Linked DNA regions of Homo sapiens. The protein of the gene in region 3 purifies or fractionates together with the protein of the main gene of each other region. This does not show direct contact. Each region holds a gene or a part of one and is shown on either strand. Other genes may lie near its edges. The genes, in order: ENAH, CA10, PARL and EEF2KMT.

The links.
Region 1: the proteins of PARL (region 3) and ENAH purify together in Homo sapiens (affinity purification with mass spectrometry; 3 studies listed by BioGRID and IntAct, with this or other methods). This does not show direct contact.
Region 2: the proteins of PARL (region 3) and CA10 purify together in Homo sapiens (affinity purification with mass spectrometry; 2 studies listed by BioGRID and IntAct, with this or other methods). This does not show direct contact.
Region 4: the proteins of PARL (region 3) and EEF2KMT purify together in Homo sapiens (affinity purification with mass spectrometry; 3 studies listed by BioGRID and IntAct, with this or other methods). This does not show direct contact.

Annotation. Positions count from the first base shown.
Region 1 is NC_000001.11:225,517,124-225,524,147, forward strand, and holds part of ENAH (protein enabled homolog), read right to left. Parts: intron 2,443-7,024; coding exon 2,075-2,442; intron 868-2,074; coding exon of another isoform or gene 184-867; coding exon 73-183; intron 1-72. UniProt on the Homo sapiens protein: Ena/VASP proteins are actin-associated proteins involved in a range of processes dependent on cytoskeleton remodeling and cell polarity such as axon guidance and lamellipodial and filopodial dynamics in migrating cells.
Region 2 is NC_000017.11:51,924,708-51,931,731, reverse strand, and holds part of CA10 (carbonic anhydrase-related protein 10 precursor), read left to right. Parts: intron 1-599; coding exon 600-742; intron 743-7,024. UniProt on the Homo sapiens protein: Does not have a catalytic activity.
Region 3 is NC_000003.12:183,881,871-183,889,752, forward strand, and holds the start of PARL (presenilin-associated rhomboid-like protein, mitochondrial isoform 1 precursor), read right to left. Parts: upstream 3,011-7,882; 5' UTR 2,977-3,010; coding exon 2,852-2,976; intron 1-2,851. UniProt on the Homo sapiens protein: Required for the control of apoptosis during postnatal growth. Essential for proteolytic processing of an antiapoptotic form of OPA1 which prevents the release of mitochondrial cytochrome c in response to intrinsic apoptotic signals.
Region 4 is NC_000016.10:5,087,796-5,094,819, forward strand, and holds part of EEF2KMT (protein-lysine N-methyltransferase EEF2KMT), read right to left. Parts: intron 5,770-7,024; coding exon 5,689-5,769; intron 4,101-5,688; coding exon 3,999-4,100; intron 2,771-3,998; coding exon 2,637-2,770; intron 2,555-2,636; coding exon 2,289-2,554; intron 1,462-2,288; coding exon 1,312-1,461; intron 1-1,311. UniProt on the Homo sapiens protein: Catalyzes the trimethylation of eukaryotic elongation factor 2 (EEF2) on 'Lys-525'.

The DNA.
Region 1 (7,024 bases), on a different chromosome or scaffold from region 3:
CAGGCAATTAAAGTCACTGCTATATAACATTTTCAAGTGATTAGCTGTTAGTAGCAATAATGAAAGCCTTACCCTGTTGGGATGGAGTCTCGGCCGGCTGAGAGGCTGCCTGCAAGCCTGGCTCAGAAGCAGAAGAGTCTCCCAGCACAGAGTTTAGAGGAGTCTCAACAGAGGCAGGGGCAGCTGCAGAGGGAGAAGGGAGAACACTAGGCTTGGATGAGGGAGTTGAGGCAATAGGGGTGCTTGGAGGAGGAGAAGCTTGAGATCCACAGTGTGAGAGTGATGCGAGGGAAGGCAGTGGAGGCGGCGGCGGAGGAGCTGCTGGCCCTGAGGTAGGCGGTGGAGACACTGGATATGTTACAGAGTCAACCAGCCCATTGGGTGCTGTCGGTGATGGAGGCATTTGGGGCACAGGAGAAGAAACACAAACAGGGAGGACAGGCCTTGGACCAGTAGCTTTGCCTGGGGGGCTGCTAATCATTATTGGAGGAGATGGAGGGAGGGGCGAAAAATTGGAAGTAGACCAGGCACAGGGCTTCGTAGCTGGAGGCTGAGAAGAGGGTGTGTTCACAGGAGAAGAAGGTCGAGAGTTTTTGTTCAGAGGACGAGGAACTGTAGCGTAATGGGGAAGAACAGGGTGGAAGGCTGAACCTAAAGATGTTGCAAAACGTGTCGCTGAGTGTCGCAGTGGTGGTGTAGGGGGTGTGGAAGTAGGTGGCAAAGCAGTCACTACAGCATAATCAGGAGTGGCATCTGACACTGGAGCTGAGATGACTTTAGCGTATGATGGAGGAGGTGCTGAAGGAGGCTGGCAACTGGAATACTCAGGAAGTGGAGCGTTATACAGGGAGCTGTCTGAAGATGGAGCTGGACAGAAGGTGGAAAGCAGCAGCAAAAGACAGGATAAAAAAGGAGAGAGAAAAAGGGAGCTAGTGAAGCCACAAAACCAGCATTCAGACACAATGTATAAATGTAGACTACAGTTAGTATCAGAGAATTAGGCACAAACGCAAATAACTATTTTCACCCAAGAATATTTTAACTTGTAAATACATTTTGAGATTCAGAAGGGGATGAAATAAGTTTCCTTTTATCTAATAAGTGGATTAATAAATTTAATTGACTAATTTCTTTTACAAGAAAAAGCTAGTATTAGTCTTAATTTTTATTTAGTCTACAAGAAAAAGGACATTAAAATCACATGAATAGGACCATAAACAGAAGAATAAATTTAGTTGTTTTTTTAAAAACAACAAATAGCAAAACTAGTAAAGCTGGCAAAACATTTAATATGAAGGGTTCAATGCTCCTATTCAATGCTAACTTGTGGAAAAGTTTTGTTTTGTTGGCCATAACTCCAGAAAATAATTAGGTAGCTAAAAATACATAAATTAACTTAATAAACCAACCAACCAACCACTGTTTAATCAAACCACATTAAGACTTTTTAATTAGGCCATAAGGAATATTCTTAAATCCTATAATGAATGTTAATTTTAATAAACGTTAAAATATCTCAAACTTTCAGCCATATATTAACCCTTATGTCTTTCAGTAAATTCCAGATTCCATAATTTTCACTAATTTTTCATAATACTAGAAAGCATATTTAAATAACTAGTCTTAGAGAATATTTCTCTAAAATAATTCTTCCTCCAAAATCTTTAGAATGCAATCAAGCAAATTTCTTGCTGAATGGTACTACAGTACTATAGTATTTGAGACAATTTAAGTGATCTCATGAGGGAAATATATTTGAAGTTCATCCAGTATAAAAAATTTCCCATAAAAACACACTTACACTTTATAGCCATTTTATAGGGTGTTAGAAGAATTAGAATGGCAGAATAAAAATTTCCAAGAGCTTTCTTTAAGTCTCCAAGCAATAAAAGCAATACAGAGAGAAATAAAAAGAAAATGTTAAAGTAGTAATTGCTGCATATTTATTCATAATTTCAAATTGTATGGCTTAATCCCAAACATCTCAAATGTGAAATATTTTAACACATGACTGCACAAGAGACATCATCCAAGCTCAGATACAAGAACACAGAAGAGTTTGTAAACTTCTTACCAGCACTTGATATTCTGCGCTCTCTCTCCCATTCCAGCTGTTCCCTTTCTAACTGCTCTTGTCGCTCCCTTTCTTGCCTCTCCCGTTCCAGTCTCTCCAGCCTCTCTCGTTCTTGTCTTTCTTGCCTCTCCCGATCCAGGCGTTCCTGCCGCTCCAGGCGTTCCTGCCGCTCCAGGCGTTCCTGCCGCTCCAGGCGTTCCTGCCGTTCCCGTTCTTGTCTCTCTCTCTCCAGCTGTTCTTGTTCCAGTCGCTCCCTCTCCAGCCTTTCCCTTTCTAACCTCTCTCTCTCCAACCTTTCTCTTTCCATTCTTTCTCGCTCCAGCCTTTCCCGCTCCAGCTCCTTTTGCCGTTGCTGTTCTTGTAGTTGTCTGGAAAAAAAAAAAAAAAAGTAAAAACATGCATCTATGGCTACTCATCATGAAAAAGCGATTCTTTTCACCTATGTAAACTATTTCTGAGTCAAATAAAAGCAATGTAGAGCATGCAAACATCTCTCCTCCCACATGAAGGCTACCTTGGATAGAGACTGTTTCATACAAATGAAAATCATTTCTCCTATTAGCATCATATTGGCTGAATGCTTCAGCACATTGCACTAACATTTCATTTTATTCTGTACTTTTCATGAGTAGTGTTGCAAGTAAATGAATTTTCCAAATAACATACCACTTTAATAACCAAGTCATTATTTTAATTATTTAGTGAAAACATTTGTAATTGTAATATCCTTAATATCAAATTTAATTGTACAAATAATATTTCAGAAAATACAATGACTGGCCACAGCAATAGCTCAATAAATATTTACTGAATGGGCCAGGTGTAGTGACTCACACCTGTAATCCCAGCACTTTGGGAGGCCGAGGCAGGTGCATCACTTGAGGTCAGGAGTTCGAGACTGGCCTGGCCAACATGGTGAAACCCCATCTCTACCAAAAATATAAAAAATTAGCCGGGCATGGTAGCGTGCGCCTATAATCCCAGCTACTTGGGAGGCTGAGGCAGGAGAATCGCTTGAACCTGGGAGGCAGAGGCTGCAGTGAGCCGAGATCGTGCCACTGCACTCCAGCCTGGGTGACAGAGCAAGACTCCACCTCAAAAAAAAAAAAAAAGTTTACTGAATGAAAAAGAGTCAAGAAAGAAGAAATAAACTTTAAATGATTGAAATCTCATATCCAGAGGCAACTATCATCAACATATGTATATAAAGACACACATCTATATATACACATACGCGCACACACGCACCCCTATATACCTCTAGACTTCCCCTTGTGTAAAAATACACATATAAACTTTAAAAACAAAATAAAATGTAACCATTTCCCGCTACTGTGAAATCTGCTTTCCTTTCTCTCACTTAATATATTGTGAAAGTTGGTCTGGGAGCAGTGGCTCAGCTGTAATCCTAGCACTTTGGGAGGCTGAGTGGGAGGATTGTCTGAACCCAAGAGTTCAAGATGGGCCTGCACAACAAAGCAAGACCCATCTCTACAAAAAATTTTAAAATCAGCCAGGCATGGTGCCATGCACCTGTATTCCCAGCTACTTGGGAGGCTGAGGGAGAAGGATTGCTTGGGCCTAGGAGTCTGAGGCTACAGTAAGATAAGATTGCATCATCACACATCAGCCCAGGCAACAGAATGACACCTTGTCTCCAAAAACAATGAAAGAAAAGAAAGGAGGAAGCGGGGAAGGAAGAAAAAGAAGGGAAGGAAGGGAGGAAGGGAGGGAGGGAGGGAGGGAGGGAGGGAGGGAGGGAGGGAGGGAGGGAGGGAGACATAAGTTAGTAAAACTGAGGATATCTGGGATGAGAACCTGCCTGTGTGTACAACTCTGGATGGACACACGCACGCGCGCGCACACACACACAGAGTTATCCTAAGGCACTTAGTTCAGCATCTTTATTTTCCATGAGTGCATAATAATATTCGATTATTTTGCTGTCCACAGTCTAAGCAGTCTCCTACAGTAGGATATTAAGTTATCCTAACACTATTGGCAATACTGCAATAACATTTGTCTTCATCTTTGAATCTTTTTCTGTTTCTATAGGATCAATAAGGACATAAATTTTGCTAGGTGAAAAGGTATGAATTTAAGATTTTTGATACATGGTTCCAAATTGTCTTTAGGAAAAGTTGTGTCAATTAACCTTCCCTAAAAAAAAAGTTATCTTTGCCAGGCACGGTGGCTCATGCCTGTAATCCCAGCACTTTGGGAGGCCGAGGTCAGGAGTTTGAGACTAGCTTGGCCAACATGGTGGAACCCTGTCTCTACTAAAATTACAAAAATTAGCTGGGCGTGGTGGTGTGCGCCTGTAATCCCAGCTACTTGGGAGGCTGAGGCAGGAGGATCACTTGAACCCGGGGAATGGAGGTGGCTGTGAGCTGAGACTATGCCCCTGTACCCCAGCCTGGGTGACAGAGTAAGACCCTGTCTCCAAAAAAAAAAAAAAAAAAGTATCTTTATCTTACACATACGTATTTCATAGCACTGTGGGGAAGATTAAATGAAGTAATACCTAAAAGCTCTTTAAGAAGTACTTGAAACATAAGAACGTTCAATGTGGGCTATAACGATAGTTTTTTTGTTTTGTTTTGTTTTTTCTTCCCCGAGACAGAGTCTTGCTCTGTCGCCCAGGCTGGAGTACAGCCATGCAATCTTGGCTCACTGCAAGCTCCACCTCCCAGGTTCACACCATTCTCTTGCCTCAGCCTCCCGAGTAGCTGGGACTACAGGTGCCCGCCACCATGCCCGGCTAATTTTTTGTATTTTTAGTAGAGACGGGGTTTCACAGTGTTAGCCAGGATGGTCTCGATCTCCTGACCTCATGATCCACCCGCCTTGGCCTCCCAAAGTGCTGGGATTACAGGTGTGAGCCACCGCGCCCGGCCCAACAATAGTTATTATTTGGAAATTTCAAATTGGGACTTTCTGGACTGGCTAATAAACTGGGTGGGTCTAGTTAGAGACAAAGCTAAATGACAGCACATGCATGCTATCCCTTTGTTCCTTCCAGCGGTACCAACACACCAGTAAGATCTTTCCAAAAATCTCTCTCCTTCATGTTTCCTAAGCTGGCTATACAACAAAAGAAAAGGCCCATTTGACAAATACATCAACCCCACTGCTCTCATAAAACACACACCCTCTCCTGGACATACCATCACACTTAACAATGACTGCAAGAGAAAAACACAAGAAACTGACTTTATTTATGAGTAGTTATTTATTTATGAGTAGTTGTTTGAGATACTGACTACTAATAAAATCAGATTTTCAGGATCTAGTACGGACTTCATTATGCTATTTGATAAATCACTAGCTGCCAAAGTTTTTGAGGGATAACAATAACTTTATCTGCAGGGATGAGGGGAAGAAATTAGATGTATTCAAAAGAATGTTTTTAATAATAAACAGAGGAAAGTCAGGGTTGGTTGTTGTTGTTTCTCCAGTAACCTGCAGTTAATAAACTCAGCTGGAGCCTGTATTAAATTTCAGATAATTCAACCTACATCAAAAAATATGGGCCATTTTACATATAATGCTCTAAGCAATCTGTTGGGCCCAAAGGGCAAAAGATACACCCATATTATTCTAATTAGAACAAATTTAAATACAGAAGCTAAAGAGAAACATTTAAGAGCACAGTAGCTGTCCCAAGAAATCTATGATGAAAAGATCTAAGTTTTTAGATCTTTGAGCATTTGTTACTTCTTCTATTTTACCAAAACAACATAAATATATAGTTTTTAAAGTTTATAACAAAAATCAGTAGTTCACTGCCTCAACCCTCCCACCCGTTTCCTACTCTTGCAGCTGTTTCTTACATTTTAGCTTTTGCTATCTACTTTCTAACAGGAAGATGCCTTCTACAACTCCCTCACTACACTCATGCTTCTCCCAATATGGAAAATCAATATTCACAGCTTACATTATTAACATGATAATGTAAATACTGCTCACAGCTGAACCAAATAGTATTCTATGACTACATTTCATTTCTCATTCAAGTTCTTAGTAGTTGGGTTTTTTTTTAACCACCAAGTTAATGGCTGTTTCTCTAAGCAATACAATGCTTTTAACACACAAAAAGTAAGCTTAAGTCACAAGCAGAAGGCCAGGCATGGGTGAGGTGAATCTGAAAGAATTATTGGTAACAGCATTTACAGCTAGGTTGTATTGACTTAAGAAGTTTGTTCCACATGTCATCATATTCCAGGGTTTTCAGGCTATAAAAGATAAGGAGTGTCTACTGATATAGGAAAAGGACACAATGCTGGAGAATATTTCTAAGTTCACAGACAGATGATTCAAGCAGGCAATTCATATAGCTGCAGGAGATTCTTACTATTTTCTTGTTCTGAAGGTAAGAAAAGAAAGTGTTGAACACTTTAAGCTAATTTTTAGCTTGCTTGCTGAAAAGATGCCCATCTAAACGGATTTCCCAAAATAGTGATTCAAGCAGAAAATCTCTGGCTTCCGAATCTTGTGTGGCATGAATAATTCCCACCTAAATTGGATGGTTTATAAATTTGACTCTCATGTTTTGACCTCTAAAGCAAGACATTTGTGTAGCTTTCTAGGAGGAGTTTCCAAATTTATAAACTTTGCTTTTCCTCAGAATTATCGCTGCCAATTCACATACTGGAAATGCACATGGCTCCTCTTCCTAGAGTTCTCTCTCCAACTGTTTTCTTCAGTCATTAATAGAATCGTCTGAGGACTTTTTTCAAAGAAAGAGTGCCTTAATTCTGAACCATGAAAAATCCTGACGGACTACTTTAATTTTTCTTTTAAGCTAGGCATATATATTCTACAATAATTTGAAAGTTTCTGAGAATATAAATTTTTTTCAGAAACAATTATAGTGCAAATCACCAATATTATTTTTTAAGCATTTAAAAAATATCAGACACAGTTCCTCCACCACCCAAATACCTATTT
Region 2 (7,024 bases), on a different chromosome or scaffold from region 3:
TTTATCTACAAGTACATTAGGTTAATGACACAGTGTTGAACTAAACAAAGATGAAGTCAAGTTGCTAAGCTCTTGTCTGGCATTGATTAGGGGGCTCATAAAATAAGTCACTCCCTCAGTTTAGTCTTGACAACCCAAAGAAAAACTTTGTGTACACTGAATGACACTTTCCTTGAAAAACTTCCAAATAGGATAAGGTTGATTTTCACATCGTTCTTGCCAGATAGGAAAAGCACAGCATCAACTCCAGGGAATTGCTAAATATTTGTGCTACCCCAGGCATATTGCAAAGATGATGAGACCTGAACAATGATGTTAGCATTAAAGTGTTAATGATGACTGCAGTCAACAAAGAAACTGCAGGATGAGTGGGCCTCAAACAAGAAAATCTGATGACAAGAGACCATGCAGGTAAGACTTAGAGAAGTGGACCAAGATTCAGACCAGGAAAATACCATAGCAACCCCCAAGGATCTCCATGGGTGGGAACATTTGGTGGTTCTCTTCCATTTTACCACGTTTGTACATAGCTCTGTTTATTTATGTTGTTTCCCCAACCTGCTACTCAGCCTAATTCTATAATTTCTTTTTGTTTCTAGTTCCTTCTTTCTGGGGATTGGTGAACTCAGCTTGGAATCTTTGCTCTGTGGGGAAACGGCAGTCGCCAGTCAACATAGAGACCAGTCACATGATCTTCGACCCCTTTCTGACACCTCTTCGCATCAACACGGGGGGCAGGAAGGTAAGCCACCATATTGCTTCCATGGTAAAGTTGAAGATGGGGCCATCTTGATTCTGAAAGCTAATCCTCAAGGCTTCAGTCTCTGTGATGAGTTTGTCCTCCCACCTAGGAATACCACAGACTTCAGACCTGCCGCCATTAGATAGAAATATGTCTAAATTGTGCTTTTTCTCCCTAACTAGTCAAACTTTTGTGCTTCTGATTACTCTGTACCTCCTGGAGGTTGCCTGAAGTCTTATCAGACAACCTTGGTACCCCCATAAAGGACAGAAAGCATAGTGGCCACCCCTGCCTATCATGCTGGGAAAATCTTTCCTCTAAGAAACTGCTTTACTAGGCCTTCTTTTAACCTCAGTGAAGTGAGAAAACCAATTAACAAAAATAAAATCAGACGTTCATCATCTTGGGAGGAAAAAAACAGACAAAAATCACCTTAGATGATTTATAAGAAAATCAATAATTAATCTTCCTAGGGGCATCTTGCTTGCTAAGAATCCTAGCTCCTGCACAGAAATGCTGAGCTGGGCTTTGTGATTCTCACACCTAAATCCCTCCTTCACTCTCCTCCCCCCATAACGAGCTCCTCTTTAATTTGTGGAAGGGCACAAGTGCCCATTGGGTCTTCTCATCACTGGAATCTTAGCACTTCTCTTGCTGGTTCATGTCTACTTGGCTATCTTTTACTGTTGAGTAGGTTGTTAAAGGTAAAAAAAAAATGCACATGCAGAAAATTGTGTTCAAAGGTAATTTAGCTATTGTTAAGAGAAATGGAAAATAATTTGTGTGCAAAAAATTGAGGTTAAAATTATTGACAACTTTTGATAATACCAGCGGCTGATTCTTCAGGGTTTGGGTCATTGGGCTCTGTTCTCTCTTCCTTTGTGCAGTCTGTTCACCATAAATACCATGAAGTTTGTAAGTTAACTTTTTCCCCTTCTGATGTATTGAAATATATTTTCTTGTACCATGTAACTGTCACAGATACACACACCCCTAATGACTCATCAAAAAGCTGTAAGTGACTTTGACTCAGGTCACAAAGCAGGTTTTAAAAGACATTGCATGTGGTCGACACCATTTAGTTATGCAGTATTTGTGTACTGTTTTAAATATGACTTGAGAAGCATTTTTGTGGAAAGGTCATATATAGGTCATTTAGTTTATTGCTCTGATTCCATATAAAACGATGCTATCCTAATTATTGTTCCATTTATAGTTTTATTTTTATAAATTCTGCAAGGAGCTTGTCATGGCTTCTAAGTACATTTCTCTTTAAAAAGGTGAATTATTTATTTAAAGTCGTGAACACGTGTGAGTTCGCTGGTCAGTATTTAAGAAGGAAAAGTTGTAGTTATGATTAAATATTCAGTCATTCTTTCTTTCTTGGAGAGGGTGATGTAGGGGATAATTGCATTCTAGGCAAAAGGAAAAGCAGGGGGTGGAAAAGCCCAAGATACAGAATGGGGTTTGGTGCCTGAGTTCCAGAATGCAGCTGAAAGGTAGCCAGCAAGGCTGAACACAGGGAGCGAAGAGAGGCTTGCAAGATGGTAGGCTAGAGAGGACAGCAGAGGGCAGGTCCTGAGGCAGTGTTCGGGAGCTGAATCCTTCGCCTACGAGTTATGGCAAGCATTTGAAGGGGTTTTAGATAAAGTACAGATTGGGATTGAGATGGAAAATGTGTCAAACTAACACAAACAATGGATATATAATTTTTACTTTCCATCAGAATGTCTTAAAGGAAAAATGTTGATGTGAAAGAAAAAAATGTCAACACAGCTTCTCCCTAAAATTTATTGGGAAAGAAGAGATTGGGAGATAGTCTAGTGTTAAAAATCACTCACATGTTATGACTTGGGTTTTTTTTTGTTTTAGAGATATTTTTTGAACAGATGATTTTGTATCTTTCCAATTCAGGAAAGTATACCTGATCCAAACCAATTTTCAAATGCATTGGAGTTTGGAATCTTGGCAACATTTACTTTTCATGATGTAAATATTTATATCTGGCACAATTTTTGTTGTCAGTGGTTTGAAGAGCTGAGAACTGTCTGATGGTTCCTTTTGCATTTGTGAAAGGTAGAAAATAAAATATAGTTGGTCGTGATAAACTAATTGGTAATGAAATGCCTTAATTTGCTAGGCAATAGGTAAATCATGTTTGTATCACATTTTGAAGGTGATGTTTAATGAGTTGGAAACTTGTTTTGAAAGTGAGAATTCAAATCACTGCTCTGATTTTTGTTTTCCCTTAAAGAAATACCCAACTTAATCGATTTGAAAATCACCCTGTAAGACTGGGAAGTTTTGTTGAATTTGGGCAAGATGTCACATTTTGAAGTCTGAGCCAAGCTGGGTGTCAGTACGTGAAATGCAGCCTAGTAACTACATGTTTTGTGTCGCATTTTTATCCACAAGCATTATTCTTTCTGGTGTTCAAGTGTATCTTATGCACAAAACTGTGATGCAGCTCTCTGGAAGCCCCTGACTTGCGTTACTATGTTTATTTTAACATATTTGACCTGACATTGGGCTCAAATGAAGGAACAAGGGCTTTCCTTACCATAGTTTAAGGCTAAAATTCAACCTCAGTACAAGAATAGCAAGGAATAATAGTTATTCCTTCTCATCCTATGCACTGTGCCTTGAGTGTAATAGAAAATATTCATTTTTATTTAAAAATGAGATTTATTTCACCTTTTAGCCTCATGTGACAGGTTGCAGTCAAAATGCAGTTCAAACTGTGTTTCATGCAAAAAGTTATTTAAAATATTGTATATAATTACCTTCAGGCTATCTACATAAGACATAATGTATATGAAACATACATGAATTTTTTGTTTCGACTTGGATCCCATCCCCAATAAATCTCATTAGATATATGCAAGTATCCAAAATTAGTAAAATTTGAAGCACTTATGATCCCAAACATTTTGCATAATGAATATTAAATCTGTAATTGTATTTTTACAAATGGCACGCCCTTAAGGCTGGGTTGTATGTAGATATAAGACTCCTACCTTGGAACCAATCTCCACCCTTTGACCCTGTTAAATTTAACATCCAATTGCTACATTGTTTGGAGCTAATTAATCCATTCTAGTTAAAGCTACTAAATTAACTTAATCAAAAAGAGGAGGTTGGGGAGATAATTCTTTGTGGTTTCAGGTTGCTTAAAGTTTCCATATATGAAGAAGTTTGATTATGATATAAATGATGTTTTACACTGAGTTAAGCCTCACTGACTGTTTTAAAGATTGAGACCCTTGTTAGCCATTGAACTTGTAAAATTTCACAAAAATGTTCACCTTTCATGTCTTTTTGCTCAGACCAAAGTGAGTGTACGCAGTGTGTTTGTGTTTTAATTTTAGTGTATAGTCACATAAGTGAGATTCTTGGTAATTTGAAAATGAAATACAGGATGAGAAGGTTACCGCAGAGTAAAATATGGATAACTTCAATCAATTATTTTGGAATATAGATATTTGCTTTGAGGATTTGATATAGGTGGGTATTGAAAGGTCGTGAGTTTAGCTTTCAGGAAGGAAATATGGCACATAGAAACCTATCTGCTGATCTAAAATATCTAAAAGGAGAAAAAACATATTAAAACTGAGACTAAAACCCACTTGCCGATTCTATCATTTTAACCAAAACTCAGTTCCGTCATCTTTTCTCATCTTTTAACTCATTTAATAAAATAGACACCTCAGTAGTTAAGGACATGACAATTGCTTATCATATGTTAAGTATAAAAAGTAGGATCTGTCATATGTTAGGTATAAAAGGTAGGATCTAAACATAATTATCATATATTAAGTATAAAAGGTAGGATCATATGTTAAGTATAAGAAGTAGGATCTAAGTATAAAAGGTAGTTGATGACACGACAAATCCTTATCATATGTTAAGTATAGAAGGTAGGATCTAAAAAAGAGACTGGGATGAAGGATAATACTGTTTTATTTTTTCTTTTCTAAAGTTTCTAGATTTGCTAAAACAGACTTGCATTAATTTGGTAATCTGAAAAATACGTATGTTCTAACCTCTCTTTCCATTTCATTTGAAAATATATTTGGAGTTGATAAATGTGGTAGACAGAATAATGTCCCCTTCCAAAAATGTCCACATCTTAATCCACAGGACTTCTAAATGTGTCACTTTACATAGCAGAAGGTATCTTGAAGATATGATTAAATATAGGATTTTAAAACTGGAAGGTTACCCTGGACTATCCAGGCAAACCCCTTGTAACCATAGAGTCCTTAAAAGGAAAAGACAGAAGCAGGAGAGTCCGAATCAGAACAGAGACGTGAGGATGGAAGCAGAGGTCGGAGTGACACAGGGCCATGAGCCAAGGAGGCCTCTGGAAGCTGCAAAGCGCAAAGAAACAGATTCTTCCTTGGAGCTTCCAGAAGGAATACAGCCCTACTGACACTTTAATTTTAGCCCAGCAAAACTGATTTCAGATTTCTAACTCCCCAAATATAAGATAATAAATTTGAGTTCACTTGAGCCACTAATTATGGGGTAATTTGTTGCAGTGCCAAAAGGAATCTAAAATAATAGATGTGAACATAAAGATTATACTGGTTTACTAACCACAAATCAACAAATTATTTTTAAAACTTTTTGGCATTTTTGTAAAATTATAGTCAGAAACAGCCTTTTTCCTGTACAACAGGGAAACAATAAAAATGAATCTAATCACAGATTCATAGCAGCTTAGATTTGTGAGAGCACCTTTGGAAGCCAGCTCCTGACACTTCCAGTCCAATGCTGTGGGGTCTAAGTTCCTCTCCACTCTCAGTATCATCTTGTCATTTCTAGGAGTTCTTAACTACCGATAGTTCTTCATATGGGTCCTGTGTTTGGTCTCTGCTGCAGAATATTTGACAGCCATTTTTTCTTTAACCATTTTAAAGTGGATGGTTCAGTGACATTGAGTACATTCAGGCTATTGTGCAGTCATCACAACTATGCATTTTTGTAACTTTTTTATCATCCCAACTTGAAACTCTGTACCCAGTAAACAAGAACTCCCCATTTTCCATCCCCCTCAGCCCCTGGTAACCTCTGTCCTACGTTCTGTTTCTATGAATTTGCCTGCTCTAGGTACCTCATATAAGTAGAATTACATAATATTTATCTTTTTTATGTCTGGCTTATTTCACTGAGCATAATGTTTTCAAGGTCCATCCATGTTGGAGCATGTATCAAAATTTAATTCATTTTTAAGGCTGAATAATACTCCATTGTATGTATATACCACATTTTGTTTGTCTGTTCTTCTGTCGATAGACATTTGGGTTGCATCCAGCTTTTGATTATTGTGAATAAGGCTGCAATGAAAATTGGTATACAATGAACTGTTTGAGTCCCTGCTTCCAGTTTTTCTGGGTGTATGGCAAGGAGTGGAATTACTGGGGCATATCTATGTTTAACTTTTTGAGGTTTGTCACACTTTTTTACACAGTGGCTATACTATTTTACATTCTCATCAGCAACACACAAGGATTCCAATCTTTCCATATCCTCACAGAAACTTGTTGTTTTTTTTTTTTTGTTATTTATTTTGAAATAGCCATCCTAATGGTTGTGAAGTGATCTCTCACTGTGATTTTGATTTACATTTCCCTAATGAATTGGCAGACTTTCACAGACATCCAGTACAAGTTTTTGGAATACAACCTGTTCCTGATACAGAGGGTAGAAGATCTTGAAACCTCTGAGAAGGAGATAGGTTGTAGAAATAATTGACCTTAGCCTAATGGCACAGTCAGGAATATAAGAAGTAAAAAGAAGCAGGGTGCAGTGGCTTGCACCTGCAATCCCAGCTCCCCAGAAGGCTTAAAGCAAGAGGATCACTTGAAGCCAGGAGTTCAAGACCAGCCTGAGCAACATAATAAGACCCCATCTTTAAAAAGAGAGACAGAGAAAGAGAGAGAAGCAAAAAAGAGAAGAAGCTGGCCATCAGCAGACTGAAGACCTACATTGGTTATCTCAAAGAAGCTGATTTTTCCCCATATCTTCAGGTTTTTTGTTTGAAATTTTGCCCAGCAAAGGCTAAAACTACTGTTGTCGCCAATTTCCTTTTGATTTCTGGATACCTGGGGATTATATCAGGGAGAGTCTCAGCAAGAGACATGGAACATGTTGAGTCATGAGGATCCCTCATAGAGGGACCGTTTATAACCACCCCAGGTCTGGAAGGGGTGAGGAGAGGGAGTGAGGACCAGAACCTGGAGACCAAATGAACCAACCATGGAGAGGAACACCTGACCT
Region 3 (7,882 bases):
ATATATACGATTGACTAATATGTCAAGTATCTTACTTAAAGATATTTTGAGGCTAGGCATGGTGACTCAAGCCTGTAATCCCAACACTGGGAGGCAGAGGCAGGCAGATCACTTGAGACCAGGAGTTCGAGACCAGCCTGGCCAACACAGCAAAACCCCGTCTCTACAAAAAACACAAAACTTAGCTAGGCATCATGGTGGTGCATGCCTGTAATCCCAGCTACTCGGGAGGCTGAGGCAGGAGAATCGCTTGAACCCGGGAGGCGGAAGTTGCAGTGAGCTGAGATCGTGCCACTGCACTCCAGCCTGGGAAACAGAGCAAGACAATGTCTCTAAAAAAAAAAAAAAAAAAATATATATATATATATATATATTTATATATATATATATATATATATTTATATATATATATACACACACACATATATATACACACACATATATACACACATATATACACATATATACACACACATATATACATATATGCACATATATACACACACATATATACATATATATGCACATATACACACACATATATATAGAGAGAGAGAGAGAGAGAAAGAGAGAGACTATCATCTCAATATAAACTTTCCATACAAACGGCAAGTTTTTTAAAAATATAAAATGTTAAGTGTTACAATTCAACTATTTTCTTCCCTTGGATAGTTTCATATAACTGGCAAATTAAACAGGTTTCCACTTTCAAGCCTCAAACCTTGGTAACAGTAAAGTTTACAAGGAGCCCAAATAAGATTTTTTTCCCCTTTTGTGTAAAAGGCCAGATAGAAGATATTTCGGTCTTTGTGGACTACTGAAATCTGTCACATATTACTATTTTTGTTTTACAATCCTTTAAAAATGTAAACCATTCTTGGCTGGTGGGCCGCCTTGGGCCTGCAGTAGTTTTCAGACCCTAGTATCACCACCTAGAGTGCTTGTAAAATGCAAATTCCTGGTCCCACTTCAGGCCTATTATTAATACATCAAATGACACGGATTGGGTCATTCTTCTGCACGCTAATTTCAAAGCCATAAGAAGTCAACATATAGCTAATAAAGGTTATATATAAGGTAAACTGATACTATTAACTTTAAGAACTTATTACCAGAGGCAAATGCTCTATTTCAGGCCTACATTCTCATGTATATTTTTTATGCAACCACGAAAATGTCATTTTCAAACTTTCTATACAAATGGCAAGCTTTTCAGACATTAAATACTAATCTTCAACATTTCATGTGTTTCTGGTTCACTGTTTCAAATGGTCTTTATACTCAATTTTTACTAGAGGCTCATTAGTTTTCTTTTGCTTCCCCTTCCTAAAACCAATACGGTGATGTGTACATAAATCTTAAATGTTTAACACACTTCCTGTTGCTTCCTAATACACGTACAGTATTTATTTATTTTACATGGAGTCTCACTCTGTTGCTCAAGATGAAGTGCAATGGCACGATCTCGGCTCACTGCAACCTCCGCCTCCCAGGTTCAAGCCATTCTCCTGCCTCAGGCTCCCGAGTAGCTGGGATTACAGGCGCCCGCCACCATGCCCCGCTAATTTCTTGTATTTTTAGTAGAGACGGGGTTTTGCAATGTTGGCCAGGCTGGTCTTGAACTCCTAACTTCAGGTGATCCACCTGCCTCAGCCTCCCAAAGTGCTAGGATTACAGGCGTGTGAGCCACCACGCCCGGCCAGTATTAATCTTTTCTTTCCCCCTTAAACCATGCAATCTCAAATGGGATTACCACCTCCATCTGTCCTCATTTTCCACCTCCCCAGGAGTTTAAGATTAGTGCCTGACAGATCTATGTTAGTGTATGAAGATACAATGTATGTAAAGTTTTCACAAGTCCCTGATAAAATTCACCTGGAATGCTTGTCGGACATATAGGTTCTTCCACTCCACCCACCCCTCTCCTGATTGTGATTTGGGAGGACTGGGGTGAGGCCTGGGACATAAAATCCATACAAACTCTTCAGGTGATCCTTGAGATTAGGCAATGGCTCCGCCACATTAGAGCCTCGATTATTTACCACTGACTATCCCACGTGTTGATAAACAATGTTTCTTATCAGCAATCAGGTGGATTCGAGGCACCCATCTAACCAAGTCAGAAATTGGAAGGAATGAAGTTTTGAACAAAAGAGGAGGAAAATTTTCAAAGCCAAATGCACATCAGATTCTTAAACAGGTGAGGAATTTCTCTCTTCTCTCTCAAATTAGAAATGAATTACTGTGATGCAAAAATCAGCAATACTGATCAACCATACGCTTCACACTTCTACTCGGAAGGTTCGGCAGTTTTCTTTCCAAATCAACCGGAAACGAAATCTTCCACTGTCTCAATTCAACAATAAAGCCTCTCCTACGACTTTGCCAGACACAAAGTGATACCTTCCATCAGACTTCGTCCTCCCTTAGATCACAAGCTAAAGAAGGCGACTGGTTGTAATGGAACACAACCTTTATAATTAGATGGAAAAAGAATAAAAACCGCCATTCTGCCAGCTGTACTAACTTCTTCACTTCAGAAACTGGCTCAACAGTTTCCACTCGCGATTATGAAGTGTGGCACGCAATGAACCCTCAGCTTAGTTCCCCTTCCAGTCACGTCCTTCCCAATGGGAAAGGAGAAAGCGCAGGCTCGCGGGGGGCTGGGCTGGGCAAGGGGAGCGAGAAGCGAGGACTGGACGGAGGCGAGAGAGGAGAGAGAAGGGGCAGGTAAGGTGAAGGGGGTGAGCTGGGGCCAGCACAAGAGGCCCAGACGGCCTCCGCCCCCGAGGATACACGGCCAGAGCTCAGGGACCAAGAGGCGAGAAGACCAGAGCGCGGCGGCTATTACCTGCGTCCGAGGAGCTGCGGCGGGGTTAGGACCGCAGTGAGCTCCTCGCAGCTGCGGCCGCCCACCGACGCACCCCACGCCTGGCCGCAGCCCCAGCCTCTCTGCGCCCAGCCTCGCCACGCCATCTTCCCAACCTCTGCCCCACCATGGCCCGACCTTACCAACCCCAGCTGCGCAACTACTTCCGGGGCGAAGGCAACACCATAGAGCACGAGGAGCAGTCTAGAGCGCCCCCGCGCGGCTGAGCGGCAGCCGAACCAGCCACGGTGCCCGGACGACTGGCTGGCGCCCTTCTGTCCCACCGCTTCCCCTCCCACTGCTCAGCTGGCTCCGGGAGCGACCTGCGAGAGTGGCCCGGCCTCCCGGCATTTGCAGATGAGGAGGATGGGGCCAGAGCGAAGAGGGACAACTGTCATTTTTTCGAGTAACGGCACATACCAGGCGCTTTGCCTAAGATCGCATTTAATCGTCACAGCACTGCTAGAGGTAGATGTCATCACTGTTTCACTTTGCCTCTGGTCAGAGGGGATAGGACTTGCCCGGAGTTGCAGGGCTGGTCCCTAGAGGAACCAACGTGGCAAGCCAAGTTTTCTTAAATTACTACTTTTTTCTGCATCTCACCACTTCGTGTTATTCTGTATGCCTTTAACAAAGTCCAAGCCTATCGGGCGGGGTGGCTCACCCCTTTAATCCCAGCACTTTGGGAGGCCGAGGCCGGCGGATCACCTGAGGTCAGGAGTTCGATACCAGCCCGGCCAACATGGTGAAACCCCGTCTCTACTAAAAATACAAAAATTAGCCGGGCATGGTGGCAGGGGCCTGTAATCCCAGCTACTCAGTTGGCTGAGGCAGGAGTATTGCTTGAACCTGGGAGGCGGAGGTTGCAGTGAGCCGAGATTGGACCACTGCACTCCAGCCTAGGTGACAGAGCGAGATCCGTCTCAAAAAAATTACAAATACAAATACAAAAATTAGCTGGGCGTGGTGGCGCAAACCTGTAATCCCAGCTACTCGAGAGGCTGAGGTGGGAGAATCACTTGAACTCGGGAGGTTGCAGTGAGCCGATATCGTGCCAGCCTGGGCAACAGAGTGAGACCCTTTCTCATAAATAAATAAGTAAATAAACACAAAATCCAAGCCTGAAATGAAAAGCGGGCTTTCACTTTTTCATAATCCATCCCTCAACTACCTGTCAGTTAGCTTGATTCCCTGCCATTCCATTCCCCCCGACCCTAGCTGCAGCCATACAGTCATTGGCCATTACTCAAAGGCACCATCCGCGTTCCCACTGCTGAGCATTCATGCTACCGTTCTCACCACTTGAAACATCTAACCGACTTGTCCTTCAGGTCAGCCTCAAGTGTCACCTCTTCCAGGAGGCCTTTCCCAGACCTCCACTCCAATTTAGATTCCCTTCCTTTGTACTCACATACCGCTTTATGCTTATCTCTGCAATAGCACTTCATTCATTCCATAAGCTCTTATTAAGCACCTACAGTGTGTCAGGTGATATGTTAAACCTGGGGATACAATTGAGAAGACACTATATCTGACCTCACAAAGATTCTATTGTATTGGGGGAGAAGGCTCTGTAGGAGTCTAGAGAGGGGGGATATAGCCCAATTGAAGGAAGGGGCATGGGAGGCTCAGGGAGAAGGCTTCCCAGAGAAACTGATAGAGGTCACCAAGAGAAGAGGATTGAAGTGTTCCTCAGAAAGAATAGCATTTGTGATGTCTCCCAGCGCACGACTTGTTTGAAAAACTAAAATAAATTCACGCCTTTTCCACACAACCCAGAGAGGGGCCCATACGGCATTGTTCTAGATTCTCTGTGGGCGGCAAGCCATCCAGGTGCCGAGGCAAGAGACCAAGGGCACGAGCTGTTCCAGTATAATAAAATATATAAAACAACAAGAGTTATACTAGATCTAGATCATAGACGTGATTATATATGAATATCATTAATCATCAGTTTGTAGCAATTATTCTTTATTCCAATATTATAATAATCCTCGCTCTATAATCATAACCTAGGAAAAACCGGGCCATACAGAGGCAGGAGCTGAGGGGACATAGTGAGGAGTGACCAAAAGACAAGAGTGCGAGCCTTCTATTATGCCCAGACAGGGCCACCAGAGGGCTCCTTGGTCTAGGGGTAATGCCAGCGTCTGGGAAGATGCCCGTTGCCAAGCAGACTGTGGTCTAGCGGTAGCATGTCAAGGAAAAACACCTGCTACTTAGTAGTCCCTGGGGGAGTTTAGAGAAGACTCTACTCCTCCACCTCTTGTGGAGGGCCTGACATTAGTCAGGCTTTCCCGCAGTTATCCGGAGGCCTAACCGTCTCCCTGTGATGCTGTGCTTCAGTGGTCACGCTCCTAGTCTGCCTTCGTGTTCCATCCTGTACACCTGGCTCTGCCTTCTAGATAGCAGTAGCAAATTAGTGAAAGTACTAAAAGTCTCTCATAATGGTGTAAGTTGTTTCTCTCTTTGTCTCCTCTCTCTCTCTGCCTCGGCTGCCAGGCAGGGAAGGGCCCCCGTCCAGTGGACACGTGACCCACGTGGCCTTACCTATCATTGGAGATGGCTCACTCTCCTTATCCTGCCCCTTTGTCTTGTATCCAATAAATATCAGTGCAGCCTGGCATTTGGGGCCACTACCGGTCTCCGTGTCTTGGTGGTAGTGGTCCCCCGGGCACAGCTGTCTTTTCTTTTATCTCTTTGTCTTGTGTCTTTATTTCTACGCTCTCTCGTCTCTGCATGTGGGGAGAGACCCACCGACCCTGTGGGGCTGGTCCCTACAATTCTCATTGTAACTTAAAGGGAAACTTTCACAATGTCTAGAGCCCTTGATGTCCTGCAAATGAAGGAGGAGGATGTCCTTAAGTTCCTTGCAGCAGGAACCCACTTAGGTGGTACCAACCTTGACTTCCAAATGGAGTAGCACATCTGTAAGAAGAAAAGTGATGGCGTCTACATCCTACATCTGAAGAGGACCTGGGAGAAGCAAGAAGTTTCTGCTGGCAGCTCGTGCCATCGCTGCCTTTAAAAACCCTGTTGATGTCAGTGTCATGTCCTCTAGCAATACTGGCCAGAGGGCTGTGCTGAAGTTTGCTGCTGCCACTGGAGCCACTCAAATTGTTGGCCGCTTCACTCCTGGAACCTTCACTAGCCAGACCCAGGCAGCCTTCAGGGAGCCACGGCTTCTAGTGGTTACTGATCCCAGGGCTGACCACCAGCCTCTCACAGAGACATCTTATGTTAACCTACCTACCATTGCTCTATGTCACACAGATTTTCCTCTGCGCTATGTGGACATTGCCATCACATGCAACAACAAGGGAGCTCCCTCAGTGGGTCCGAGCTGGTGGATGCTGGCCCTGGAAGTTCTGCGCGTGTGTGGCACCATTTCCCTCGAACACCCATGGGAGGTCATGCCTGATCTCTACTTCTACAGAGATCCTGAAGAGATTGGAAAAGAGGAGCAGGTTGCTGCTGAAAAGACTGTGACCAAGGAGGAATTTCAGGGCAAATGGACTGCTCCAGCTCCTGAGTTCACCGCTATTCAGCCTGAGGTTGGAGACTGGTCTGATGGTGTACAGGTGCCCTCTGTGCCTATTCATCAGGTCCCTACTGAAGACTGGAGTGCTCAGCCTGCCACAGAAGACTGGTCTGCAGCTCCCACTGCTCAGGCCACTGAATGGGTAGAAACAACCACTGAATGGTCTTAAGCTGTTCTTGCACAGGCTCTTAAGCAACATGGAAATAACGTTGATGGAAAATACACATCAGTTTCTAAAAAATAAATTCACTTTGGTTATATCAGAGGTGTCAAGTCTGGGATTTGATTTTACCCTATTTGCAAGCTAAAAGATTGGATGTTGGCAAAAGACAGGAGACTCCTGGGTCAGAGACAAAACACTTTATATTACCACGGCATGTTCTCCAAGTCCCATGGTGGCAATGCCATGAGCCAAATGGATGAAGAACATGCAGTGGATTTGCATCTCAACCAAAGAATACTGAGCCTGGGGAATCTACTGTTTAATAGTGAGTTTTTATAGTAAACAAGCGAACAATCTTGAAAGGTAGAGATGTTTTCCTCAAGAGCAAAGGGCAGTTGGCTTATAACCTTGGAAGAAAGATAATATCACCCTAGAGAGCACAGGCTTGTGTGCTGCCTATCATAAAAGATTCTAATGCCATGACGGGGCATAGGGGCTCATGCCTGTAATCCCAGTATTTTGGGAGGCCGAGGTGGGTGGATCACTTGAGGCAAGGAGTTCAACGCCAGCCTGGCCAACATGGTAAAACCCCATCTCTACTAAAATTAGAAAAATTAGCCAGGCTTGGTGGCACACGTCTGTAGTTCCAGCTACTCAGGAGGCTGAGGCAAGAGAATCAGGTGAACCCAGGAGGCAGAAGTTGCAGTGAGCCAAGACTGTGCCACTGCACTCCAGCCTGGGGGACAAAGCGAGACTTTGTCTCAAAAAAAATAATAATCATTAAATAAATAAAAGATTCTGATTCAGCCAGGCACGGTGGCTCTAGCACTTTGGGAGTCCTAGGTGGGTGGATCACCTGAGGTCAGGAGTTCGAGACCAGCCTGGCCAACATGGTGAAACCCCGTCTCTACTAAAAATACAAAAATTAGCCAGGTGTGATGGTACACGCCTGTAATCCCAGCTACCCAGGAGGTTGAGGCAGGAGAATCACTGGAACCATGGAGGCAGAGGCTGCAGTGAGCTGAGATCATGCCGTTGCACTCCAGCCTGGGCAACAAAGCAAGACTCTGTCTCAAAATAAATAAATAAAAGATTCTACTTCCTCAGTTCAGAATTCCTCTCCTTAATGCAACCCACTGAGTCTGCAGGTACAGTCCAGCCCTCTTCACATTGCTCCATGAGAATTGGGACTCAAGGAACCAGCACAAAAATTCTAATAGTCTGGCTAATGCTATTGCTGTGGGTAATAAATTGTCCTTCATTTCTGACCCAGGAGTCTTGTATTTTCTGCCAGCACCCATAAAACTAT
Region 4 (7,024 bases), on a different chromosome or scaffold from region 3:
GTCTCAAAAAAAAAAAAAAAAAAAAAGGTGGGTGGGGGCTTATACTATGTGTGCTGCTTGGCACTGTTTTTTTCACTTAAAATATATTGCAGGTTTTTTTTCACGTAAGTATCTGAAGAAAGACTTCCTTTTTTTTTTTTTATTTTTTATTTCTTTGCTTTTTTGAGACAGGGTCTTGCTCTGTTGCCCAGGCTGGAGTGCAGTGGTGAGATCAGGGCTCACTGCAGCCTCCATCTCCTGGGCTCAAGCCATCCTCCCACCTCAGCCTCCTGAGTAGCTGGGACTACAGGCGTGTGCAACCACATCTGGCTAGCTTCTGTATGTTTTGTGAAGATGGGGTCCCACTATGTGGCCCAGGTTGGTCTTGAACACCTGGGGTCAAGTAGTCCTCTTGCCTTAGCCTCCTAAAGTGCTGGGATGACAGGCCTGAGCCCTGCGCCCGGCCAGCCTCCTGTGCGAGGTTGTGGGGGGACTCTGTCGTGGAACCCAGTACGTCTTCGTGTGCTGGCTTGTTTGTTGGCTCTGTAGTTAACGGGCTGCCCCACGTGGACAGGCACTGGGTTGTCTGTGTCTCTGTGTGCAGGCAGAGGCTGCTGCATGTGCATCTGTGCACATGGCTGCCAGGAGGGGCTGTGCTCAGGGGGAGCTGGGGCAAAGGCTGGTGGCACTGGGGGGCTTGGGTGTAGTGTGGAGGCGTGAGAGCCAGGTGGCTGGGGTGCAGTCTGCGGGAGCTCGGGGGTCTCTTGGCCTCCGTGTGTCCTAGTGTCTTTGTTGGTGAGATGGGACAGTGACAGCACACCCTCACAGTTGCTGGGGGCTGACAAATGTCAGGTCTGAGGACAGTTGCTGGCCCACTATGGGGCCAGTTCCCCTTCTCTACAGTCACCCTGCTCGTCTTCCACCGACTGGGTGCTCAGGACAGTGGCGTGGTGGATCCGCCTGTACATCCTGTGCTCCAGCGTCCTGCAGGCCACAGCTGTGTCCAGCCCTGACCCCGACTGCCCCTCCCGCCACCTCCATTTTATAGATGAGGAAACCGAGGCCCAAGGGCTTAGGGAACCCTGCTCTGAAGCACACAGTAGGGCTGCTGGGCTCAGACCCTCCCTCCCTGTGCTGAGCTGCCCTCCTCCTGCCGCAAGCCCCCCACGCCCCAAGCCCACCCTGCTCACTGGCCTCTGCCTGAGTTCCCCCCATGGTGTGGGAGTGTGGGGCAACCTAGCTTTTCCCCGGCACCCAGTTCTTTCACTTCCACTGGCGTCCTGCAGGGACAGCTCAGGGACCATGCAGGCCCGGGTGGGCGTGGAGGCTCACCTAGCTCGGTGGTGAACAGCTGGCACGTCTCTGGGTTGCGGACGGTAAAGGCCACGTAGACCTCAGGAGCCCGCTGGTGCTCCCGGCAGGCAGCCAGCCTCCGCAGGACCCCGACCAGCGACATGATGGCTTCTGGGCAATACAGCACATCTATGGTGAAAGCTTCAGGTTACTGAAAGGGACCAGTGGACAGGTCCAGGTCATGCTGACGTCAGCAGCAGGGCGAGGCCAGAGAGGCAGCGGTCATATGAGACTAGTAGATGCCATTTGACCATTTGGGCCATTAGATGGAAAGGCAATTACTTGGGTGAAAAAGGAGAACCCTTAGTAGAGAAAGCTGCAAAAGACCGAAGCAAAAGAAAAAAATCTCCAGACTCACTGGTGTTCCTTAAAAAACCAGCTCTGGTTCTTGGCCTATCTAGAGGGCTTTGAATGACACAAAGCCTGACCCTGCCATGAACTTCATGTTTCAGGCATCTGCTGATTTGTCTGCTGGCTTGCAGGGGTGGGCTTGTGTCCCTGGCCACCGCTGGACCTGTGGGTTTCAGGGCTGGGACCTAGGACCACAGGCAGAGCTCTGTTCCACCAGAGAGGGGACTGAGTGTGCTGGCAGGGGTGAGGGGTTTTCGGTGGCCCAGCCAAACACCACCTTCTCTCAAGGGCCCTGTCTTCGTCCCAGAAGTGGTTGTTTTCCTCCTGTGGTCTCTGAAGGACACAGGGCATGGCTCTGGGACAGAGCCATGTGGTAACGACTGGAACGGGAGTATGCCTGTCTCCAAAAAGAGGGCTGTGGGTTGAAGGTCACCTTAAGAGGCACCCCTGTCCTGTGATGTCACCCTGGAGGCCCAGAGTAACTCTTCTGGAAGCCCCATCATGTCCATGCCCGACAGCGTCCATTGTTCCCTTTTCCCAGAGCCAAGAGCTGGGTAGAGCTGCAAGGACACCACCTGCACAGGGTGCCCGGGGCTGGGCATTACCTGCTGCAATGACAACATCTGGCTGGAAGGCAGAGAGCTGATGGACCGTCGCGACGTCCCAGTCCAGCTGGGCCACTGTCACCCTGGGGCTGTCTAACTTGGCAGTGATGTCTGCCTCTAATGAGAGGCCATTGAGAAGGACATTCCCTCGGAGCTGCTCAAGGACCCGGCTGTGACAGTCGCTGAAGATGTATGCCCGGGGGCGGCACATCTTGCAGATGGCCAGGCCTGTGAGGCCAGCACCACTGCCAAGCTCTAGGACAGTCCTGGCGGGAGGAAAGGGGACCGTGTCTGCGACTGCACCAGGGTAAGCCTGCCTCGGTGCCCTGCCCTGCGCCCCGAGGTCACCTGTTAGTGAAGACTGCCGGGTTCTCGATGGCCCATTCTGCAAGGTAGAGGGCGGCGTCCCATGTGACCAGGCCTGTGGTACCGTAGGAGATGATGGCCGTGCTCTCGGAGAGTGTGACCGAGCCTCCCGAGGGCTGCACCAAGAGAAGGCGAGAGAGTCAGTCCAGCGATCAGAAGGCAAGTGGCTTAGAAGACAAGTAGCCCCACCACATGGCTGAATAAACCATGACAGGACCAATCGCCACTCAGCAATGAGAAGCAGCTAACTGTTGGCATGCCAACAGCTTTCACGGGCCTCAAGGGTGTCACGCGGTGTGAAAGACACTCATCTCAGGCCACACAGGATTCCATTCATCGAACCTTCCTGAGACAACGGAATTCTGGCGATGGAACACATGTCAGTGGTGGCCAGGGGACAGGTGTGGCTATGAAGGGGTGGCTGCCTTGTGATGATTCAATATGCTGTTTTTCCTTTGTGGTTTTCTGTATCTATGTTTTATCTTATTTTTTTTTGAGCTCTGTCACCCAGGCTGGAGTCAGTGGCACGATCTTGGCTCACTGCAACCTCTGCCTCCTGGGTTCAAGCAATTCTCCTGCCTCAGCCGCCCAGGTAGCTGCGAATACAGGCGTGTGCCACCATGTCCGGCTACTTTTTGTACTTTTTTTTGAGACAGAGATTTGCTCTCGTTGCCCAGGCTGGAGTGCAATAGCATGATCTTGGCTCACTACAACCTCCACCTCCTGGGTTGAAGAGATTCTCCTGCCTCAGCCTCCCTAGTAGCTGGGATTACAGGTGCCCACTACCACACCCCGCTAATTTTTGTATTTTTAGTAAAGATGGAGTTTCACCATGTTGGCCAGGCTGGTCTCAAACTCCTGACCTCAGGTGATCCCCCCGCCTCAGCCTCCCAAAATGCTGGGATTACAGGCATGAGCCACCACGCCCGGCCTGATTTTTGTATTTTTAGTAGAGACAGGGTTTCACCATATTGGCCAGGTTGGTCTCGAACTCCTGACCTCAGATGCAACCACTTCGGCCTCCCAAAGCGCTGGGATTACAGGCGTGAGCCACCACGCCCAGCCCTGTCAAGTATTCTTTGAGGACTGGGCACCAGGTCCTTGTGAAGCAGGTAGTGTGTGTCACCTATTGGATAAGTGCCCAACAACTCCACGAGACATGCTGTTGTTGTTGAAGTGCCTGATTTACAGACAGGGAAACTGAGGCTAAAGAAGGTTGACGGACCTCATGTCTAAGACTGTAGAATGGGTGAGTCAGGATTTGAACCCACACCCACGTTTTCACTTTGTCTGTGCAGGAAGGGTATCTGGGCTGTGAGGGGGAGGAGGGTGCCCTTCTCATACCAGCAAATAGCTCCGGTGGCCCTGGGTGGACTCCTTGGCCATCAGGGTCTCCGCCAGCGCTTCATACAGCTCGTCCAAAGGCTCTGTGTGGACAGCCTCGTGCTGGGGGCAGACAGAGTGAGAGCTTGTTTGCTTTCGTTCTAATCTGTAAAAATGGCCAGATGATTTTCACCAAGTTTGGAGGGGAGATTTGCGATGGAATGGTATAATACCGGCCAGCTGCCATATAAAATATTCACTTCGTTGGGCTTGGTGGTGTGTGCCGAATAGTCCCAGCTACTCTAGAGGCTGACATGGGAGGACTGCTTGAGCCCAGGAGTTCGAGGACAGCCTGGGCAACAGAGACCTTGTCTCTAAAAAAAAAAATTCACTTGGTAGGGAAACCTGGATGGGAGGGCCTTGAACCAGAGGTGTTGGGAGGGTAGGGTTAGGTGTAGTCTAGGGCAGGAGACAAGGATTCCGTGAGAGTTGCCAGGTGACCATGATAGAGAGCCGTGTTTGGATCAAACACAGAGAGGAGGAAAACAAAAGGTGCTTTTAAGTGAGCCCAGGCAGAAGTGTGAGGGCGGCCCATGCTGCAGGCTGTGGCTGTCAGCAGGCCGCTTCTCCACAGCTGGCCCCGTCCTATGATTCACAGGGCAGCAGCAGAGTACACTGGGTGACTGCTGCCCTCTCCTGGTGGCACAGGGCAGACCTGCTGGTGACCACAGATGCATGCTTCTGGGGAGGACTAGGGAGAAAGCAGGTATTGGAGAAGCAGGGGATTGTTTATTTGCTAAAAGTGTGGCTCTTTCACTCAGCAGGTCTGCTACTGCCTACTGAGGAGGCCTCTCGACATCCTCATGTCAAACCCTGCATGTTCGGGCGCATCTTTAAAATCCATCCTAGGCCAGGTGCGGTGGCTCATGCCTGTAATCCCAGCACTTTGGGAGGCCGAGGCAGGCGGATCACCTGAGGTCAGGAGTTCGAGACCAGCCTGGCCAACATGGTGAAACTCTGTCTCTATTAAAAATAAAAAATTAGCCAGGCATGGTGGCGTGTGCCTGTAGTCCCAGCTTCTTAGGAGGCTGGCATGACAGTTGCTTGAACCCAGGAGGCAGAGGTTTCAGGGAGCCGAGATTGTGTCACGGTAATCCAGCCTGGGCAACACAGTGAGACTCTGTCTCAAAAAAATAAATAAATAAGTAAAAAATAAAATTCATCCTTTATCAGTCAGGAAAGAGCTCATTCCAGCAGGATTAATGCAGAGAATTCACCAGAGGAACTAGTTCCGAAGGTATGGCAAGAGCTAAATCTTCCAACAGGGGCCTGTGGGGCAACCCAGAGACGGACAAGAGCAGGAAACTCCAAACCCTTCAGCGGGCAGGACAGAGGGTGCGGGTGAGGGTTCCAGTGCTGTGGGCTGGGCCAGCCTGGTAGGAATGAGAATCCATATGCTAGGAGCTGGGGCCCCAGAGGAGCAGCTGCCGTGGAAACCCCAGGAGGCAGAGTGAGGGAGAGATGCTGGCCTCCCCTTCTTCCCGCCCTGCACTGTCTCCCATGGGTCACATGTGGCTGCAGCCAGTTGCCTGGGGAGGCCCCTGCCATGCTGGGGTTTGCAAAGCAGGCCCAGGGCCTGGGAAGGACGGGGGCTCCAGCACGCAGGTGGCTATGCTGTCCGGCTACTGGGCGGACACTGCCCATAACTGACCTTTTTGATGAGTTCTGAGAGAAAGCACCGGGCATATTTGACGGACGGCGGGTGCTTCACACACACAGGATGCTTCACAGTCTACGGCAAAGGACAGAACGTTGGTTGCTCGAGAGCCCGTCTTAAGTCTCCTATGAGCTTCAAGCCAACACAGCAGAGGGCAAACTCCAGGCTACCCGATCCCTCAGCAAAGATGTAGATGGACACAGCGTTTTGGCCCCATGCATCTGAAGTTTGTCTTAAGATATAAGCTGTTTCCTAAAAATGCTTCCACTGCAGTGGCACAGGCTATGGCAGCATTTCTAACGCCCATTCTGAGCAGGAACACAGGGCATGTGGGCCCAAACCGCCTCCCTCCCAGGGGAGCCAGTGTGAACCAGGGTTTGCAGTAAGGACAGTCGCCAACGGTCTGGCTCTATGGAAGAGGCGGGAAGGCCCACTCGGCAACTGCTCTCTTGGAGTGTGTGTCCCTGGGGACAGGATGGAGGGGACGGGACGCTCCGGGTGACACTCCAGCTAAAGCCCAGAGAAGCCAAATGCAGGATGAGCAAGTTCTAGGCAGTGGGAACAGCTGGTGCAAGCTCTGAGGTGGCCACAGCCTGGCACTTGGAAAGGAGGGCAGAGGGACTGGTGCAGCAGGAGTGGGGACGGCGGGAAAACAGGAGCCTGGAGGGAGAGGGAGGAGACGGTCCACAGTGCCTGCTGGCTGGGAGGGATGCAGATTCTGCCCAAGGGCAGCAAAGTACCCCACGCAATACACAGGCTCTTCAGGCTGGTGCTGGTTTTTCATTTATTCTGACACAGAGTCTCGCCCTGTTGCCCAGGCTGGAGTGCAGTGGCCCGATCTTGGCTCACTGCAGCCTCTGCCTCCTGGGTTCAAGCGATTCTCCTGCCTCAGCCTCCTGAGTAGCTGGGACTATAGGCATGTACCACCACGCCCAGCTAATTTTTGTATTTTTAGTAGAGATGGGTTTTTGCCATGTTGGCTAGGCTGGTCTGGAACTCCTGACCTTAGGTGATCTGTCCACCTCAGCCTCCCAAAGTCCTGGGATTACAGGTGTGAGCCAGTGCACCCAGCCTTGTGCTGGGTTTTAAAGCAGCTCTCCCTACATTTCATGCTTCACCACCTACGAGAGTGAGGCTCAGGGTGAAACTCAGAGCAGGGTGCGAGATAACTTCAGGTATCTCCATGCTCGAAGCCCTGGTATTGCCCCGAAAGTTTTCCCTGCTGTGGCTGTATCTTTTCCACATGGATAATCTTGGTTCACCTCTAGCACAGGAATTCTTCACCGGGGCTCCTAGGATGGGCTGGGTGGGTGGGGGTGGAGGATATCTG